Linked DNA regions of Homo sapiens. The protein of the gene in region 3 purifies or fractionates together with the protein of the main gene of each other region. This does not show direct contact. Each region holds a gene or a part of one and is shown on either strand. Other genes may lie near its edges.

What was found. Proteins that work in one complex are often made in the same cells at the same time.
Region 1: the proteins of ZBTB44 (region 3) and CILK1 purify together in Homo sapiens (affinity purification with mass spectrometry; one large-scale study listed by BioGRID and IntAct). This does not show direct contact.
Region 2: the proteins of ZBTB44 (region 3) and ESF1 purify together in Homo sapiens (affinity purification with mass spectrometry; one large-scale study listed by BioGRID and IntAct). This does not show direct contact.
Region 4: the proteins of ZBTB44 (region 3) and DDX49 purify together in Homo sapiens (affinity purification with mass spectrometry; one large-scale study listed by BioGRID and IntAct). This does not show direct contact.

Annotation. Positions count from the first base shown.
Region 1 is NC_000006.12:53,054,110-53,058,969, reverse strand, and holds part of CILK1 (serine/threonine-protein kinase ICK), read left to right. Parts: intron 1-4,860.
Region 2 is NC_000020.11:13,773,705-13,778,564, reverse strand, and holds part of ESF1 (ESF1 homolog), read left to right. Parts: intron 1-2,294; coding exon 2,295-2,692; intron 2,693-3,294; coding exon 3,295-3,408; intron 3,409-4,860. UniProt on the Homo sapiens protein: May constitute a novel regulatory system for basal transcription. Negatively regulates ABT1.
Region 3 is NC_000011.10:130,231,418-130,236,887, forward strand, and holds part of ZBTB44 (zinc finger and BTB domain-containing protein 44), read right to left. Parts: coding exon 5,376-5,470; intron 4,800-5,375; exon of another isoform or gene 4,693-4,799; intron 2,857-4,692; coding exon 2,739-2,856; coding exon of another isoform or gene 2,574-2,738; exon of another isoform or gene 1,966-2,573; coding exon 1,939-1,965; coding exon of another isoform or gene 1,892-1,938; 3' UTR 1,891-1,891; exon of another isoform or gene 299-1,890; 3' UTR 1-298. UniProt on the Homo sapiens protein: May be involved in transcriptional regulation.
Region 4 is NC_000019.10:18,925,778-18,930,345, forward strand, and holds the end of DDX49 (probable ATP-dependent RNA helicase DDX49), read left to right. Parts: intron 1-525; coding exon 526-600; intron 601-1,988; coding exon 1,989-2,077; intron 2,078-2,187; coding exon 2,188-2,259; intron 2,260-2,350; coding exon 2,351-2,539; 3' UTR 2,540-2,853; downstream 2,854-4,568. Other genes in the region: HOMER3 (homer protein homolog 3), read right to left, coding at 3,666-3,857. UniProt on the Homo sapiens protein: ATP-dependent RNA helicase that plays a role in various aspects of RNA metabolism including the regulation of mRNA export and the levels of pre-ribosomal RNA. Regulates the stability and synthesis of pre-ribosomal RNA and thereby regulates cell proliferation.

The sequences.
Region 1 (4,860 bases), on a different chromosome or scaffold from region 3:
TCCATCTGAACCTTGCCAGGAACACTACTGCTTAATTTTTTTTTTTTATACTGCTCCTCTTGCAGCAGTCTCCTCCATTTCATTTTGTAGGATCTTGCAGAGTTGGAGTGGTACCTAGCCGTTCTATTGATGTCTGCCCTTATAAAATGCATTTTTCTGCTTGTGGGATCTATGTGAGTGTGTGTATTTGCCTGGTGGTTCCTTGGGAGAATTCTGGATATAATGACCTCTCTGTGTATGTTGATCTGAAAGCCTGTGAATAGTATCTCATTTAACTGTTGTCTTTCACCTGTGGTCTTTGATGACTGTGGCTTTCTGAGAAGGGCCTATGTTTAGAGTATTAGAACTCTCCTATCTGTGAACCTCAGTGTTTATGGTTGATGTGGTTGAATCAGGGAGAATGCGCAAACAGAGGTGTGTGTGTGCCGGATGACTTATACACGTTTTGGGATTACAGTGTAATTGTGTCTTAGTTTGTGGTTGTGCTTACCTTTGAAATACAGTTTTAACTTCCTTATAAAAGCACATGTGTTCTAGAAAATTACCTAGTAAAAAGAATTTGGTGAAACAAATCATTTTCTGGGGCAAATTGCATTAAAATGCTAAGGAAATGTTGTGGCAGGAAGAAAATCAGAGATGCCTTTGATTGCAGCCAAAGAAGTAAAAGCAGCAGCTCAGGCCTACCTCAAGGTGGTAACCAAGGTTGATATGGGCATCTTCATTCAATCTGTCTGCTCCTAGTTAACTGCTGTCCAATATTAGGAAAAACTACTACTCAACAGGTTTTAGGGAAACACTCAACCCAAACAGAAGGCTTCTATTCCTGATTTTCTTCCAAGGAAACTGAACTATCTTTGCACATTAAGTACCTGACTCTCTGTGCTTTGAAAGTTGAAGTCTTCCTGGGTAGGAAGAGTGTCTTGTCGTGGGACTTACCTGAGCAGGCTGAAATCAAATCCAACATATGTTGACATGTGAAGTCATGTTTGAGTTTGAGGATAGCACATCTTCAAACATCTGCTCCCCCCTTTTTTTAAACTATATGGGCTCAGGATTAGCAAAATATTCATATGCTTTTTACCAAGGAGCACGTGGGGAACATTTGATACATCTTTAGTTGGCTATAAAACATGTATTATACTCACACATTTCAAAATATTCTACTCTGAAGATAGCAAGTATTCTGTTCTTCTTAGTTGGATCTCATCTGTAGAGTGAGAATGTCAAGTGATCATTAAGGTCCTTTACAGAAAAAAAAAATTCTTAACTCTATTGTCTGAAGTTTGTTCAACATTAGGCTTTGAACATAGTTCCTAATGAATTTAGCATTCAAATCTATGTTAATTAGCATTCAGTTATATTTTATCTTTAAATAAGCTCATCATGGCTGCTATAAAAGATAATGCCTCTGAACCAAAAGATAAAGTATTATAAGTGTGATGTCCAACTATATTTGACAATATCATGAAAGTAACTATCTGCGTGAACTTGTAGTTCCTAGCAGATGATTGTCATCCTAACTCACTTTTTTTGAAATGAAAGGGCCACAATAGTGCCTTGCTTTTCATTTGGTGCTTTTCCCACCATGTCAAGAACCCTTAGTAGCCACTTAATAAATGTATAACGATGGCCCAGAGCTTATGAGAACCACACGTTTTTTTAGGAGAGATCAGTGTGAGTTATTTTTTACCTTTCTATAGGTGAAGCATGACCTGTGATAAAGTATTGATAACATGTGACTGCTCTTTTGACTACCATAAAAGATAATGCCTGAGAACCGGAAAGGAAAGTACTATTGTATAATGCCCAAATACGTATTTGGCAATATCATGAAAGTTACTATCTGCATGAACTTGTGGTTCCCAAAAGATAGTTATTAATGGTTTTGCCCTCTTGGACATTGCCTTTGCTTTGAAAGAGAATTTACTAGAGAATGATTTAACTAAGACAAAGGGGAGTAAGAAAAATGTAAGATATACATGCCTTCATGTGATCTTAGCTGTTGAAAAGCAAGTTTTTTCCTAAATTAGTGTAAAAGTTTTTAGAAGGAGTCATAATTTTGGTACCCTAGTCCCAGTACAGTTGTCCAGTTTGCAAAGAAGTGGGGCGTGACGGGATGACAGTGAGGGTGGACGTGGTAGTATAGGAAAATCATCTATGGTCAGGATTGCCTTTTAAAGCTCCATAAGTTGTTCATTCATTAGTTAATTCATTGAACATGTCTTTATTGTGAGTCCGTACTTGTGCCAACTATGCCAGTTCTCTGGGAACTGAGTACTGGGAATACAGTTGTGAATATTGCAACGTTTCTGACCTCACAGAGCTTATATTCTAAGGTTAAACACAGCTTGTATGTAGCCCTGTAACCTAGGGGTAAGTGAGGGCTCTATGGAGAGTACTAAAGTGCTTCTGCTTATTTGGGGGATTTCCTCATCTTCAGGGCTTGACAAACTATGGCTTGTGTGCCAGTCCTTCCTGCTGCCTGTTTTTGTAAATAAATTTGTACTGGAACACAGCCATGCCCATGTATTTACATATTGTCTTTGACTGCTTTCATGCTACAATGGCAGAGTGGAGTTGTGACGGAGATGGAGAGCCTGCAAAGCCTATCCTGTTTACTGACCCTTCACAGAAAAAACGTGCTTATCCCTGCCCTATTTTATTTTTACATTAAGCCTTTACTTCCTTTAATTCATTTTGATTTTTTGTATACATGCTAGCAAAGCATCTTACACTGAGATCAGCTCCTTAGTCAAATGTGTTGTAATAGCATATAAATACTGATAACATGTGGCTGTCCTTGTAACTACCGTAAAAGATAATGCGTTAGAACCAGAAAGGTAAAGTATTATTGTGTAACGTCCAGCTACTTATTTGCCAGTATCATGAAAGTTACTATCTACATGAACTTGTGATATGCTCTTAGTCACTCCCCTATCTTCACTATCCCTTATCTTGCCCACCCCTGAAACACAGGCAAGCAGGACTATTGCCACCCTCGGCAGTTTTCATTAAGCTGGGGACTCTCGTTCTAGCTCATCTACAGTTTCACACATGGCAGGGTAAAGGTTTGTTTTTCTGGCTGTTTTTTTATTTTTTATTTTTTTTAACATTTCGCCTTTACTTCAGTTCTTTACAGTCCACCAAAGCCAACTATGTGTCCTAGTTTAAAAATCATCTGCAAGTGATTGAAGAACTTTTTTAAGGTTCAAGGCGTGAGCACCTTTTATATTGTAAGAGAAGCGACAGGGAGTTATGGAAGCTTCTCATGGGATTAAGGACCTAGTGCAGGACGAGTTCTTTTTTCAGAAGCTGGGATTGAAAGAGGAGAGGGATGGTAAAGGTATGAAGAAGTTTCTGGGGCACAGAAGAAGGCACATCATGTAACGGATTATCTTCTCTTGTTAACATCCAGTTGATGCAATAGCTGAATGCATCTTTAATTCACTCCTCTGTCAAGGTAAAGACAAAGCAAGATCCATGTAAAGAAGGTCCTTTTGGCTTTGTAACTGCTATTCCTTATGCAGAAAAAAAGCAGTAGTCCAAGAGGCAAAATGCTTAAAAGGTTTGCTTGCTAAAATGTACAGAGGCAGAAGAATTAGGTCCAGGAGAAAAACATAAACCCGGATATACTATTTCTAGTACCTTTTTAAAAGAAATTAACAGTATTCACTGACTTTTGTAAAGTTAGGACACATTCAAACCTAGAATACGAAGTCTAATTATAAACCTGTAAAGGTAAAATGGAACTCAGAATTACCATGAGAAGGGTCATCTAATGATTTTGCATATAATCCACTTTTCCTAGGAGGATAAATGAAAGTAACAGAATCTTTTCAATGTAAGATAATTAATGCAAAGGGAGACAAGCTCCTTCTAAGGAACTGAATGGTGTCAGTGGGCCTGGTAAACCACAACTCCCAGAGAACCCCAAGTTTGCTGTAACTTTTTGTCTCCTGTCTTAGAAAATGTGTAATGATGGCATTAATTCATTGATTAAGGTTTCAAAATAAAGAATGAACTACAATTTTCCCTGCCCCTCGCCTCCATTTTTTAGGCTGTGAATGAGCAAGGCACCTGATGTGAGCTGCTGGCCATGAGCAAATGTTCTTTGCCTCCACCGAGGATTGACGCTGAGGGGAGGGAATTGGGGCAAATCACAGGAAGCTTTTCCCCAATGTCACCTAGCCAGGAACATCATAACATTGACTTCAAAGGTTTGCTGGAACTCTTTGAAAGAGAGATAAAGCTGTCTTTCTTTGGTAGTTGAGTACAGCCTTACCCAAAGGCCAAAGGCCTGATCTGACCGCATGGAGGGGGACTTTCTGTGATCCTCTGAGACTCAGTCATCTTGGCATTGTTGTGGGAGGGCCCAGGCTGCCTGCCTGCCCCAGCTATTCTGTGGTATTCACTGTTCTTCCACTTCAGAACTTCAGAACTTTTAGTTGGGCCCAACAGTTTATCTTTGTTTTGTGTATGACAAAATAGAAGCACTGAGAATTTTGAGGTACTTAGCCAAGGTGGTACAGAAAATAATAGCAAAGACTAAAACTCACATTTGGGCCCTTCAAACAATCTTTGAGGACTTGCTACTGCAAGTGGAGTGAGAAGACAAAGATGAAGCAGTCTTGGAGAGTGTCGAGGCTGAAGCAGAGGGTACACCTGCAGGTCATTGCCACGGGGAAGGGGCTGGCAGTGAGGTGAGGACAAGGCACTATGGCATCAAGGGAGAGGACCATTCTCGGGTCTATATGTGTAGGTTGGGGCAGGAGGCTTGGAAGAGGTGACATGTGAGCTCGAAAGAGAAGGAATCGATGTTTAATGTTTACTGGGGCCTGGCTGAGGCACTGGGGCACTTGT
Region 2 (4,860 bases), on a different chromosome or scaffold from region 3:
AACATCTTAGAAAACAATGTAATTACCCTATCACTTCTGTGACTTTAGGAATATTGTTTAGAGCAAAACTAACTTTTAAAAAATTCAATTTAATAAAAAAATGATATTCAAAAATCATGAAAATGGTATAATGACTGACAGTTGAGAAATATTGCAATACTAGATAGACTGGGTCTGTAAGATGTTATTTCTAAGCTTGTTGCTTAAAAGTAAATTCTGCTTACCTCATAGTAACTTTCAATGTTGTGTTTTTCAGATCTCATATATAGAACCTGTGACAATGCTTTCATTTTGGCGCTTTTCACTTCTATTGGCTAGTTATTTTTATTAATCCCTGCTTCGTTGTGGTGGTAACATAAAAGCCCATTTCCTGCTTTTCCTTCTAACAAGATGCCTTTTCATTCAGTTAGTCTCAAGTCAAGTTGTATCTTTGTGAAGCCTTTTTATAAATACCTCTCTGCAGGCAAATTTAGATGTCTCTCACTGTATGGTGATTGAGAACATAGATTTATAAATCAGTAAATGGTTACCTTTTATTTATGAATCCATCAAGAGCATGAGATCGTGTTACAAATCTTCTCTCTTTTCCCTTATCCTAGCTCAATTCTTTGTATGTAGTAGATACTCAGTAAATATTTGGTCAGTGAATAACTATTATAAGATTATAGGACCAAGAGAAAATTAGTTCCAATTTCATTCTAAATCTTGAACTTTTAAATTTGCTTTTAATTTTCCAAACTTAGAGCCTGTAAGCAGAAAATAAGCTCCAACTTAAAGATGAGTAAAACACGTAAGATATATCTACACACCAAGTAGATAGAAGCCTGTGATTGCTTTAGAAGTAGGAAATGAGCCCTTTCAGAGTTGTGAGGACTAAAATTTCCATCTTAAGCAAAAACAGTCTTTCAATCTTGGTGTATTGCTAATCATGACAGTTGATTACAAAGTTCAAGACCTGGCAGAAAAAGTATAAATATTATTTCTCTGTCTTTATAGGTGATCTCATCCACATCACAGCTTCTGTTGTCAACTGCGTATGAATGAGTCACTGATCTCCAACCCAGACTTCTCTGAGCTGTACACTCTTATTATTGATACTTTCTTTTAGATGACTGAGTGGCACTTCGTATTCAACATATTCAAAACTGAACTCATGATTTCCCTCCACCAAACAAACTAGTTCATTTCCAGTGTTCCCTTTTCATCTTTCCATCTTCTTAGCTAACTAGCTCTGAAAGCTAAGAAGCTATGACTCATCTTTGACACTTCCAAAACTCCCAGTCCCCGTGTCAAATCTCCAGTCGGTAATTATTGGTTTCACTTCCTGACTGACTCTGAAATCCATGTACATCTCTGCATACATACTGCCACCCAACTTAGTGCTACCTTCATTTCTTGCTTTTTGTACTGTACTACCTTTACTATATTCACATCTGTTCTTTACTTTCCCAAGTCAGTTTTCTACAGTATAGTCAAGGTGATCTCCTCAATATGCAAGTCTGAGGATGACAATATCCAAAAGAAGATGACATCCTCTTTTTTGAAAACAGCAGTGTCTTCCCATTGCTTTTATGAAAAAGTCCAAGCTCTCTATATGGTTTTTTGATAGCTTGGCCTCTACTTAACTCTTCATTTCCATTTGTTACTTGATTCTGTGCTATCTGTGATCTGGACATGATGGTTGGCTTTTTCCTATTGGCAGATTTTTACAGGTACCTTCCTTGCTCTTTCAAACAAATTTCCATCTATTAGTCTAACTTTGACTATTTAACTCCTGTTCATCCTTCAAGTAACAGCTCAGTTATCACTCACTTAGGGACCCCATTAAATCCCCTTAGAAAACATTCTTTCTGGGATATCTTAGTTGTGATTTTAACTTTTCCTATATATTGATTTTATTTGATATCCATGTATTCTTTTCACTCAGCTAGAAGTTTCACTGAGAGCACTGTTTGCTTCTCTTTTACCAACTGTTGTATATTGAGCACTTAGCACGTAGCAGGCACACTGTTAAGTATTGAATGAATGTCTGGATCTACTTGCGTGATGTGAGCATGTGTTAGGATTTCCATTAAATAACTTGGTTAAGTGTATTTTCCTTTACTCTGTTTCATAGAAGTTATGGTTAGGATTTCTATCATAAAAATTGACTAAGCATTTACTGAATATATATTTGTCTTTACTGTGTTTCATAGAAATTATATTTTTACTGGAGTTGATGTCAAGATAATTTGGATTCAGTTTAATTCAGCATATATCTTTTCTTAATTTCTTTCCCCTTTAACATTTTGCAGTGGTTCAACTCATAATGACAAGAGACAGTGATGGTTATGAAAACTCAACAGATGGTGAAATGTGTGACAAAGATGCTCTGGAGGAAGATTCAGAAAGCGTTAGTGAAATAGGAAGTGATGAGGAATCTGAAAATGAAATTACAAGTGTTGGTAGAGCTTCAGGTGATGACGATGGAAGTGAAGATGATGAAGAGGAGGATGAAGATGAAGAGGAGGATGAAGATGAGGATAGTGAGGATGATGATAAAAGTGACAGTGGCCCTGATCTTGCAAGGGGTAAAGGAAATATAGAAACTAGTTCTGAAGATGAAGATGATACGGCAGATTTGTTTCCAGAAGAATCTGGTTTTGAGCATGCTTGGAGAGAATTAGATAAAGATGCTCCTCGTGCTGATGAGGTAACCTTTTGAATAAACAAGATTATTTGTGAAAAACACAGTACAAGCAGCTTTTATGGCTGGTAGAACTGATGTCATTAAGTGGGAAAAGCTTATTGGTAATAGTATTCTTTATGATTCTGATTAAAATTTGATATGGAATATAATTATATGAACTAGAAGACGTCCAAGCAGATAAGAAGAGGCTCTACATAAATAATTAAAAGTTGCATGAAATTTTTAATACTTGTTTTAGCTAGTAGTTTGTATTTCTGTTTGTACGGCACCCAAAAGAAATGTTGCAGGGTAACATACTCAACTTCCTTACTCATGCATGCATGGCAAAATAGCTGAACAAACTTGGTGGTTAAAAAATCAGCTCATGATCATGTTCTGATTTAAGAATTAAGAACCAAGTAAGAGAAAGTACTTACCTGTTATGGTTTTACTATTGTTTGGCTCATTTGAAGTTCTCTTTTATATACTGAATTACGCTTAGATAACTCCTGTACTATTAATTTCAGAGCATAGGGGACAGAAGGCATTACATTTTTAGAATCTTTATTTTTCAAGTATTGAGAATGATATGGATTATGTACTATTTAATTCTTCTCATTTCTCAGATTACACGTCGATTAGCAGTTTGTAACATGGACTGGGATAGATTAAAGGCAAAAGATTTGCTGGCTCTGTTCAATTCATTTAAACCCAAAGGAGGTGTAATATTTTCCGTCAAGGTGAGAATTGATTTCATTTTGAAATAAATATTTCTAGGCATTTTAAGTTAAATCTGATTTTTTTTTTTTTTTTTGGCCATAGTTTTCCTTTTTAGGAAAATACTGTGGAAGTTGTCCAATCCAATTGAGTGTGAAACTTATGTAACAGGTATAAATGTTAGAAAGGAAGAGGTGAAATTATTATTATTGATAGGTTATATGATTGTTTACACATTAAAAATCCAAAGAAATAAAAGCTCAGTAAAGGGACAGCATATAAGAAGTGTTTTTAACAATAAATTGCATTCCTTATTGCTAACACTGGCCAATTAAGGAAAAAATCTAATTATACTAGAAACAAAACCACATAAAGTTCTTGGAAATTACCTTAATAAACACAAATGACCTATGTGAAGTAAACTGTAACACTTGATAAATTTGAAAAACTTACATAAATTTTGAGGATACCATATTTCAAGCCAACCTAATAATTAAGAATCCAGGCTTTGCATTATTGCAGACCTGGGTTCAAATCTTGATTCTCGTAAGTGTTATGTGATCCTGGACACTTAATTAATCTCTCAAGTATGTTTACATCTTTCCAATATATCCAAATGGATATAACAATAGTATTGGTGATTGTAAGGATTAAGTATAAAGGAGCTTGAACTAAGTATTTAGTGCAGTGCCTGAAATAGCCCTGCCCTCAATCATTATTAGAGATTGAGTCTCCCTTATCCAAAATGCTTGGGATCAGAAGTGTTTAGAATTTCAGATTTTGAAATAAAATTGCATTATATATACTTACTGGATGAGCATCGCAATTCCAAAATCTGAAATGCGCCAATGAGCGTTTCCTTTGAACCTCACGTTGACAGTCAAAAAGTTTGGAATTTTGGATTTGGGATTTGGGATGCTCAACCTGTATTATTCTGTTTAAATATTTAAAGATGTTATGTCTACTGTTCTAGGGTAATTTTGATCAAAATCCCAGTTCAAGTCAAAGTTAAGAAAAAGGATACCAATAATCATCTAAAAGAATAAACAAATTAAGAGTAGCTAATAAACTATTTTTTTTTTTTTGAGATGGAGTCTCGCTCTGTCGCCCAGGCTGGAGTGCAGTGGCGCAATCTCGGCTCACTGCAAGCTCCGCCTCCCGGGTTCACGCCATTCTCCTGCCTCAGCCTCCTGAGTAGCTGGGACTACAGGCGCCCACCACCACGCCCGGCTAATTTTTTGTATTTTTAGTAGAGACGGGTTTTCACTGTGTTAGCCAGGATGGTCTCGATCTCCTGACCTCATGATCCGCCCGCCTCGGCCTCCCAAAGTGCTGGGATTACAGGTGTGAGCCACCGCGCCTGGCCTAGACTAGCTAATAAACTTTTGAGAAATCATGCTAATATAAAAACTCACCCTGTCGCTTCTCGGCCTTTTGGCTAAGATCAAGTGTAAAAACTCACCCTACAAGTTACA
Region 3 (5,470 bases):
TATTCAGATTTCCCATAAAACTTGGCAATGTGTATTACCAGTGAAAATCTAAAGTTTCTACTTGGGAAGGAATACCCAGTGATGGGTAATCCCTCATTCTGAGAACACAGTCAGAATATCTTGGAGCTACCAACATTGTGCTTGGCTCTTAATGCGAAGTTTTCAGGGTTGGGGATGTGCTAAAAACACTTTTAACCAATCAATCTGCAAACCATTCTTACACGTTTCTCTTCTTTATTCTTCTTTCCTTCTTTTCTTTTTTCTTTCCTCTTGCTCTTTCAAAAACCACCTCTTGGAACTAAGGGTAACAATGATTCCTGGTCATAATTTTACCTATTCTTGTCAATACAGATTTTAAAATTAATTTTGAGATTTATCTATTGCTAGGCCTAACAGTTTTCAAAGACCACAACGTAACATTAAAATTCCTGACCTTTCCAGTTGAGACACAGCAGTACTATATGAAGTATTATAGTCTGCTGCAGAAAGTAATGCAACCCTATCAGTGAAGAAGCATAAATGGTGGGAGCCTATCATAACCTGTATATGCTGATTCTCCTGAAGGGAACACACCTATGTTTGGCAGCAAATGGGTAAAAACAAGTTCATGAGTGAGGTAAAGAGTTGAAAACAAGTTAAGGACTGCAGAATATGGGCAGACACAGAGAATCTTAACCTAAAACAGTTCTAAGGAATTTAATTTACTTTTCCTTTCTTCACATGTTTTTGGGGAAAAAATTACAGAATTAGCCAATCTAAAAAAATGAAACAAATCACTATAATTAAAAATATATACATTTAGTATGGTCTAGCACCTGAACAAAATTCAGATCTTGTGTTTTGACTAAAGAACTGTATTTTCTGTCTATCAAATCAGGTGCTCTCATAATTATTAAACTTTGGGTATCTACACAGAAACTTATTCCAAAGTTCACTGCTCATGGACTTACAAATATTTAGGATCAATATTAGAGATGCTTTAATGGCACCAGATGAAAAGTATACCCAAGTCTAGAGGATCATACAAATTTCAACTACAGACCAGAAAGTTTCATATTTTTAGCAGCAGAAATAATATTCATTAGTTTAAGGTTTTCAGTTTCTCATTAGTCTTAATAATTTTTTTCTCCCAGATTTATGAGTCATAGATGAAAATCTTACAGTCTATACTCTTCATTGTTGCCTACGTTGTGTAAAAACTATAGTTAACTGTTTTTAATAACTTTGCAATGTCTAAAAATAAATATGTAAGGACAATGTATCGCTGTCATATGGGATTCAGTAAACAATCTAGTTGGGTTAAGAATGCAGCCTTGGCCGGTGCAGTGATCCCAGCAGTCTGGGAGGCCAAAGGAGGAGGATCACTTGGTCTAGGAGTTCAAGACCAGCCTGGGCACCATAGTGAGACCTCATCTCTACAAAAAATAAAAATGAAGTTAACCAGGTGTGGTGGAGCATGCCTATAATCCTAGATACTCAAGAGGCTGAGGCAGGAGAATGGCCTGAGCCCAGGAGTTCGAAGCTGCAGTGAGCTATGACTTAGCCACTATACTCCAGCCTGGGCAACAGAGTGAGATGCCATTCTTTTAAAAAAAAAGAAAAAAAAAAAGAATGTAGCCTCAATAGAGAATTATTTATTATGTCCAAAAGAGCACAATGAAAACATCCCCAACAACACATAAACCTATATATAAAATATAGAATATCTCCAGTATTTTTACTTTATATGGCAGCACGCCAATATATGCAAGAGAACATATTGATGGGGCAGGGGGAAAACTGATCCGGGCAATGACACAGTCAGGCATTACATTCGGAGACCAGGTAAACAGCAATTTTAATCTGAAAAGCAGTATGAGAAGAGTTCCTATGAAGCTGGGATTTACATACTTCATTCTCCGTTCCTGGTCATTTCATCCACAGCTTGACTGTTGTCAATCATGGTTCCTTGCCTTTGGAGTGGTACTATAAAGGTACAGAGAATGCCCATCTCAGTACCAAAATTTCACCATGAAAAATCATAACAGAAATGACAAAGCTTAAAGAAAAGTACGCCGGATTTCAGAAGTATTTACCATAATAATTTTTAAGAAAGCTTACCATAAATACTTCCAAAAACAACAGGCTTTACAAAATATTATACAACATCCTGTGTACAGCAGTAAGTATCTACTCAGGCCATTTGTCAAGCTGTTTAGTAATTAGTTTCTCATGTACCCTCTTGTCTCAAGAAGGTCAATAATCATCTGATTTCCTCTCTAGCTAATGATCTGTTGTTAGCCTACTTTTAACAATGGAAGAAGGAACTGGTATATGTTTTAAGTCAACCAGTTCTCCTTAAGTCTCATAGTTTCTGTTTCAACATCATGTTATTGTGTACTTACAGAAGCAATCTCTCAGTTAGGAAAAATAAAATCAGTTTCAGGGCTCAGAAAGTAAAAAGGGAAATTCTTTCCCAATCTCCCCCTCCCTCCCACCCGGCTTTTTTTGTTTAAAAAATTAAATTAAATTTAAATGTACAAGACCAAGCACAGGCACTTTCCAAAAAACAAAACTGAAGCCAAATCACAAAACTACTCAATAGTTATAGAAGACAGCTCTGATTTTGGGGGGTCATCTCTGGTTGCCTCAGCACAAGCACTGCTCTTTGGCTGCTCTGGCACTTCTTCCTCTTTTTCTGCCAGCCCACCAAGAGACCCCAAGGGAAAAGTGCTTTCACAATTCTGGGTTGAGGAGACCTGTGAAATGACAGGCATTTGAACAGAGGAGTTGCTTTCAAAACCGTGTTCTCCAAGATCATATTGAACAAGGGTCTCTTCTTGTTCCTGGTTTAAGTAGTCCGGTACTAGGAAATCACTAGATAAGAGGCAAAGGATGAAATATGGAATTAATTTTCAAACCAGTAATAGATAAGCAACAGTAAAAAGCTCTGATTTATACAACAAAATTGGGACTCTTCATTTCACTAATTGTTCAGTGAAGATTAAAACTCAGGAACTTTCAACTTATAAACTTTCCTAAATATGAACCAAAACATCCATTAAAACCAAAATGTATCAATCTTCCCCACCACCAATACATCAGGTTAATTATCACTTTCATTATAACTCTGGACACCTTAACAGCCTTTCTTGTTCTATGTAGAGGAGTTTCTATATACAAAACAAATGTAGCATGCTCACTTAAACAAAGATCATCTGAGTAACTTTAATGCTAAACTTTTCTTGATTATACATTGAGTAAGAGATATATAAACCTAGCTTTGTATTACTAAACTTGACATAGGTTAGTTAAGAAACTAAGTCCTTATGCATAAATGACCTGATACATAATCTACTATAAAGTTGGGAAATGTAGAAAGTAATTTATGTGTATCCTGCTATTACATTTGGTATATGAAAATACTAATAAAGAATTTGGAAATGAATGCCTTGAGATTGGTTATGTGATAATCCTCAAAACGTGTTCAATTATTGGTCCCCACAGGCAACATGGACAGTAAAATATACTAAAAACAGTGGCTACTTTCCTTAAGTGATGAAATAGAAAATATTTTAAATTTCTTCTTCATACTTTTCTGTATTTCCTAAATTTCCTACTTATAAGCATCTTTTGGTAATTGAAACTAAGTATGTGAAATAAGTCTTATCTTAGAGGCTTTATTTAAATCTTTATTACTGAACTAAGAACTTCATTATACCATAATTGTCAATAATATATGTACTTAGACTTGATAAGGTTATTTTATAATTTCATTGTTCAGTATTAATAAAAAATTAAAATCTGTTCATCTGCAAAGTAATTTAGAATGCCCTATGTTATATTTTCTAAAAAGTCTTCATTCAGGTGTTAGAGAAGAAGAATGGAGAATACAGGGCTCTGTACAGGGACGATAAAGATAACATGAGTAGTTAACAGGAACACTATTTTAGTCCTGAACAAACTATGTTTAATATGATATGTATAACCTAAGGTTTAGTGATATGGCAACCACACATTCAGAATTAGAGATGACTGCATTAAACAAAATGAATGTCTGGTTTGAAGGGAAAAACAAAATCTACGCAGGAATAATTTGGAATTTGTTTACAAATAAGGTTTTAAGTCAGGGGTGGTGCCCACACTTGTAGCCCCAGCAGGAGAACTGCTTGACCTCAGGAGTTCGAGGCTGCAGTGCACTATGATTGTGTCTATGAACAGCCACTGCACTTCAGCCTGGGCAACACTGCAAGACCCTATCTATTCAATTAAAAAAAAAAAAGGTTTTAAAAATAAGGGTGATTTAAAATGTAAAGATTTGGGCTGGGCATGGTGGCTCACGCCTGTAATCCCACAGCACTTTGGGAGGCTGAAGCAGGCGGATCACTTGAGGTCAGGGGTTCGAGATCAGACTGGCCAACATGGTGAAACCCCATCTCTACTAAAAATACAAATATTAGCTGGGTGTAGTGGTGGGCACCTGTAATCCCAGCTACTCAGGAGGCTGAGGTTGCAGTAAGCCGAAATCGTGCCACTGCATTCCAGCCTGGGTGACAGTGAGACTCCATCTCAAAAAAAAAAAAAAGAAAGATTTGTAAAAATTTCATTTTATGAGAAACTAAGGATTCCTACAGAAGTACAATTCTTATAAACAATTTAAAACAACAGTTTTATATCTAGAGAAGGCCTTAGAAACCATCGTTTAAAGCTTACATTTTATCTTTCTCTAAGTTTCAAGCTTTTTCATGTGTAAAGTGACAGGTTTAATCAACAGCAGTTAGTGGCAGAGCTAGATCTAGAAGCTGATTTCCTGGGATGCCCTATAAATCAGAAAGGTAATTCTATTATAAATTAATATTACAAGAATAGAGCTCTAAACTGAATGAAAATAGCAATGACTTCATGATCTAAACCATCACACCCACTATAGTTGCCTTTGAAATTTTTCTTACTGGCCAATGGCTATTCCTTTATATAGAATATTTTTAAATAGAGAGAAGTGGTAAAGAATTTTATTAACATCTAGAGTCTGGAGTAATCCAGTATCACTAAGCATCATCTGACATGGTAAAATTTCCAGTAAGATCTATTTAAGGTCCATTACAGAATTACTTAAACCTTGTATTATTTAAAAAATATCTCAAGAGGACAAGTAGTCTACTTCTGCAGGAAAATATTTTTAATACCAACTATAAAATGTTTATAATTTTATATACGTAGAAGACTCAGCAAAATTTTATCAGATCAGGAGATTAGAGTATGAACAGTGGGAATCCGTAACAAATGTGACTGACTAGCTGGCAACCTGATGTAAAAACACAGAAGGCTGCCCTAAAAGCAGGAAAAGAGAGTTTAGAAAGCAGTTTTCCTGGTTGGGTTTTCGTTGTGCACCTCACCTGCTCTGGAAGTAGTTTGCTAGCTCTGATGCTTCATGGTTCAGACTCCTCAGGTGCACGATTAAATTTCCAGAGTTGGTGAACATGGCGCCACA
Region 4 (4,568 bases), on a different chromosome or scaffold from region 3:
TGTGGTTGCTGGGGTCGGACTGGGCCTGGACCTTCTATCCTGACCCTGTGGTGCTGGGCAGGTCACTTCCACTCCCTAGACCTCACATGGTGGATAATGAGAATGGTGACGTCCTCGTGGGGCTGCCATGAGGGTCACGGACCTTGTCCACCATCAGTGCAGTTTCGGCCCTAGTCAACGTCACAGAAAACAGCAAGCAGAGATCTTGGGCTGAGGCCCGTCAGGGCTAATGGCTGGCATTACTTAGACTGGGTTCCCTGGCAGCCAAGCCAAAAAGGGAAATCGGGCAGTAACTAACTGCTGTGTAAGGCCAGACTGGCAGACCTGCCTCTCCCCAGCGACCCGTCCTCCACACAGTGGTCCTGCTTGGGGTCAAGCCCAGACACTCTGGGCTGATCCCTCCCAAGCCCAAGCCCTTGTTCAGCATCTCCAGGACCCCTGAGCTGTGTAGCTGTCAGGATCTACCTTTATTCGCCCCATGTCCTGACGCCCAGCACATAGCAGATAACCGGCACATCCCCACAGGGCGGCAGGGTCAGGCCATCACGCTGGTGACACAGTACGACATCCACCTGGTGCACGCCATCGAGGAGCAGATCAGTGAGTGGGGTTGGGGTGGGTGGTAGAGAAGGAGGGGTGGGGTGGGCAGAGGTGGGCACCTCGGGGTGAGACCCATTTTCCCGTCAGACACCAGCCGGCCTGCTCCCGTGAGCAGATTTAGGCTGGGGCTTCCTTCCCTAGGCACCCCCAAAAGAAGTTCTTTTGCCCATTTATTGAAACAAACTCCCCATAGTTGTCGCCAGCAGCTGAAAGCCACATCAGTCAGGAGGGGACTTGGGTTTCTTAGACTGAGATGTATGGAAGGTCCCTGAGATGTCAGAGGCCCCATTGACAGGGCCTGGCCTGCTAAAAACCCCTGGGAATGGTTTCATATGCAGCCAAGACAGAGACACTTCCTAAGGTATCTCTGATCACTGCATAGACTGTCCTGAAATTTAGAAACATCTGGACTTGGCCAGGCACAGTGGCTCACACTTGTAATCCTAGCACTTTGAGAGGCCGAGGTGGGCGGATCACTTGAGCCCAGGAGTTCAAGACCAACCTGGGCAACATGGTGAAACCCCGTCTCTACTAAAAATACAAAAATTAGCCAGGTGTGGTGGCGCACGCCTGTAATTGCAGCTACTTGGGAGGGTGAGGCATGAGAATTACTTGAACCCGGGAGGCAAAGGTTGCAGTGAGCCAAGGTCGCGCCATTACGCTCCAGCCTGGGTGACAGTGAGACTCTGTCTCAAAAAAAAAAAAAAAAAAAAAAAGAGAAACATCTGGACTTTAAGGCCGGGCACGGTGGCTCACACCTGTAATCCCAGCACTTTGGGAGGCCAAGGTGGGTGGATCACTTGAGCCCAGGAGTTTGAGATCAGCCTGGGCAATGTGGAGAAACCCTGCCTCTCCAAAAAATATAGAAACTAGCAGCACACGCCCGTAGTTCCAACTACTCAAGAGGCTGAGGTTGGAAGATTGCTTGAGCGGAGGCTACAGTGACCTGATTGAGCCACCACGCTCCAGCATGGGCGACAGAGTAAGACCCTGTCTTCAAAAAAAAAGAAAGAAATATCTGGACTTTAAAGGACACTGTTTGCAAGAAATTAATATTCATGGTTAAACTCATAATGCTGCTAACACCGAAAAAAAATGGCGGGGGGAGGCTGAGGCATGAGAATTACTTGAACCCGGGAGGCGGATGTTGCAGTGAGCCGAGATAGTGCCACTGCACTCCAGCTTGGGTGACCGTGAGACTCTGAAAGACAGCGGTCCATACCTTCCTTACCTCAGAAATCCCTGATCTTGCTCAGCTGACCCTTACCTGATATGGCCCCAGATGGCCTTGCATACCCCACAGCATGGGGAACTCACTACTTGGCTGAACTCCCTCTCCATGTCACGTCTCCTCCCCACCCCCACCCCCGGCTTTGCTGTCCCCACAGAGAAGAAGCTGGAGGAGTTCTCCGTGGAAGAGGCCGAGGTGCTACAGATCCTCACACAGGTCAACGTGGTGCGAAGAGAGTGTGAGATCGTGAGTGTCAGAGGCGGGCAGGAACTAAAGTGCTCTCCAGGGCCGGGGGTGCTCCCTTCCAGGTGGGGCCCCCGTGACCAGCATCTCCTTACCCCACTTCCCTCCACCAGAAACTGGAGGCGGCCCACTTTGACGAAAAGAAGGAGATCAACAAACGGAAGCAGCTGATCCTGGAGGGGAAGGTGAGGGCCGAGCCCGCAGGTAGGGGGTGGGTGGCCAGGTTCCCTGGCGGGGGCCGCCAGCTCAGCCATCCCCTGGTCCTCCCTGTGCCAGGACCCTGACCTGGAGGCCAAGCGCAAGGCTGAGCTGGCCAAGATCAAGCAGAAGAACCGGCGCTTCAAGGAGAAGGTGGAGGAGACGCTGAAGCGACAGAAGGCTGGCAGGGCTGGCCACAAGGGGCGTCCACCCAGGACACCGTCTGGGTCCCACTCAGGCCCAGTCCCCTCCCAGGGCCTGGTCTGAGCCCCACACGGCCATCTGCCCAGTCCTTGACTCGTCCATGGAGCTGAGGGTCGGAGGAACCTTCCTTGGGGGCAGCAGCCCTTCCCGGGGGCCTACCCAGTGCCCCACAGCAGAACCCGTGGGCGCTCGTGTTGTGCGGGCCCTGCTCCTCTGCCCCGAAACCACTGGCTGGTCCCTTCCCTGAGCCCTGGCCAAGATTCAGGCTGCAGGGGAAGAAAGAACATGACCGGGAGGTTGTGACCCCAACCCAAGGTCACCCCCCAGGGGTGCCGCATACAGGAGGTGCTTAATAAACGGGTCTTTTGACTTCCTCAGTCTGACTTTCGAAGAGCAGGGGGACAGGAGAGGTGGGGTGCAGCCGCTGTTGTTTCTCAGGTGTCTGCCCAGAACACCATGTCCATTTCCACCAGGCAGGCCCAAAGTTTTGCAGACACCAGCTGCTCGAATGGCCATGGGATTTTGGGCCCTGAAGCCCCTTCTCTGGGCTTCCAGTTTCCTCATCTGGAGAATGGGCATAGCAACTGCCCTGCTCTCCAGAGGCAGCTGTGAGGCTTTGGTGAGGTCAGTCCTGTGCCGAATGGGTGCAGCTATAAGCTTCCCTGGCCACCCACCTGGCCACATCTGGGGTTTGTGGCCAGAGTGAAGGGGCCATGAAAGTCCAAATTTGGCCAGACAATGTGGGCTAAGCCCAAGGGGACAGGCAGAGAGACACCAGAGCCAGCTTCCTGGCTGTGTGGCCTGGACCCCCCTCGGACTCCAAGCCTCACCCCTCATCTGCAAGCGGCTTATAACTGCTACATGGATTCAGGGGCACCCAAAAAGACGCAGGGAAAGGCGCCGGCGACATGTTAAGTGCCCAGATACCCACATACCACACACACACAGCCACGCTTAGAAATGTAATCGGGGGATCTAGAAATTCTACACAATGAGAAGCTCAAAAACAGCCCCAAAGCTGCCAACAACCAGAGCCGACTGGGGCCCACCCCAGCCCAGCCCGGCCCGGCCCACCCAGGGCTAAGTTGGGACCCCCCAGTCCCTTTCCAGGACGAATGGGCCCAACTATGCCGCCTGCAGCCTGGCCCGCATCCCAGGCCGGAATCGTTCATAGAAAACCAGCCCCGGCTCAGGGCGCAGCCTCAGCCAGGCGGGCCAGGCCCTCACGCAGCTCACTCAGCTCAAACAGGCTGACGTCCAGCAGCTGCGCTGCCCGGCCCACCTCAGCCCGCGCCCGCTCCCGCTCTGCCCGTGCCTCCTCCAGGCTGCGCTCCATCGCCCGCAGCTGGTGCTCCAACTCCGCATTGCGGGTCTCCAGGTCCTGCCAGGAAAGGGTGGGCAGGGTTGGGGGCCCCAACAAATCACCAGTCCTGCCCGAGGCATCCAGAGTCTGACCACCTTCATGTCCCTCTTCTGCCCAGAGCCATCCTAGGGCGCCCAACACACCAGGAATAAAATGCACACCCCACAGGGGCCTAGCTTCTGCCCTCATTTCTTTTGTTTGTTTGTTTGTTTTTGAGAAGGAGTTTCGCTCTTGTCGCCCAGGCTGGAGTGCAATGGCGTGATCTCGGCTCACTACAACCTCCGCCTCCCAGGTTCAAGCAATTCTCCTGCCTCAGCCTCCCAAGTAGCTGGGATTACAGGCATACACCACCACGCCCAGTGATGGCTTACACCTGTAATCCCAGAACTTTGGGAGGCGGAGGCAGGTGGATCCCCTGAGGTCAGGAGTTCAAGACCAGCTTGGCCAACATGGTAAAACTCCATCTCTACTAAAAATACAAAAATTAGCTGGGCATGGTGGTGCACACCTGTAGTCCCAGCTACTCTGGAGGCTGAGGCAGGAGAATCGCTTGAGCTCAGAAGGCGGAGCTTGCAGTGAGCCGAGATCGCGCCACTGCACTCCAGCCTGGGTGACAGAGTGAGACTCCATCTCAAAAAAAAAAAAAAAAGGCTGGGCGCAGTGGTTTACGCCTATAATCCCAGCACTTTGGGAGGCCGAGGCGAGTGGATCATAAGGTCAAGAGATCGA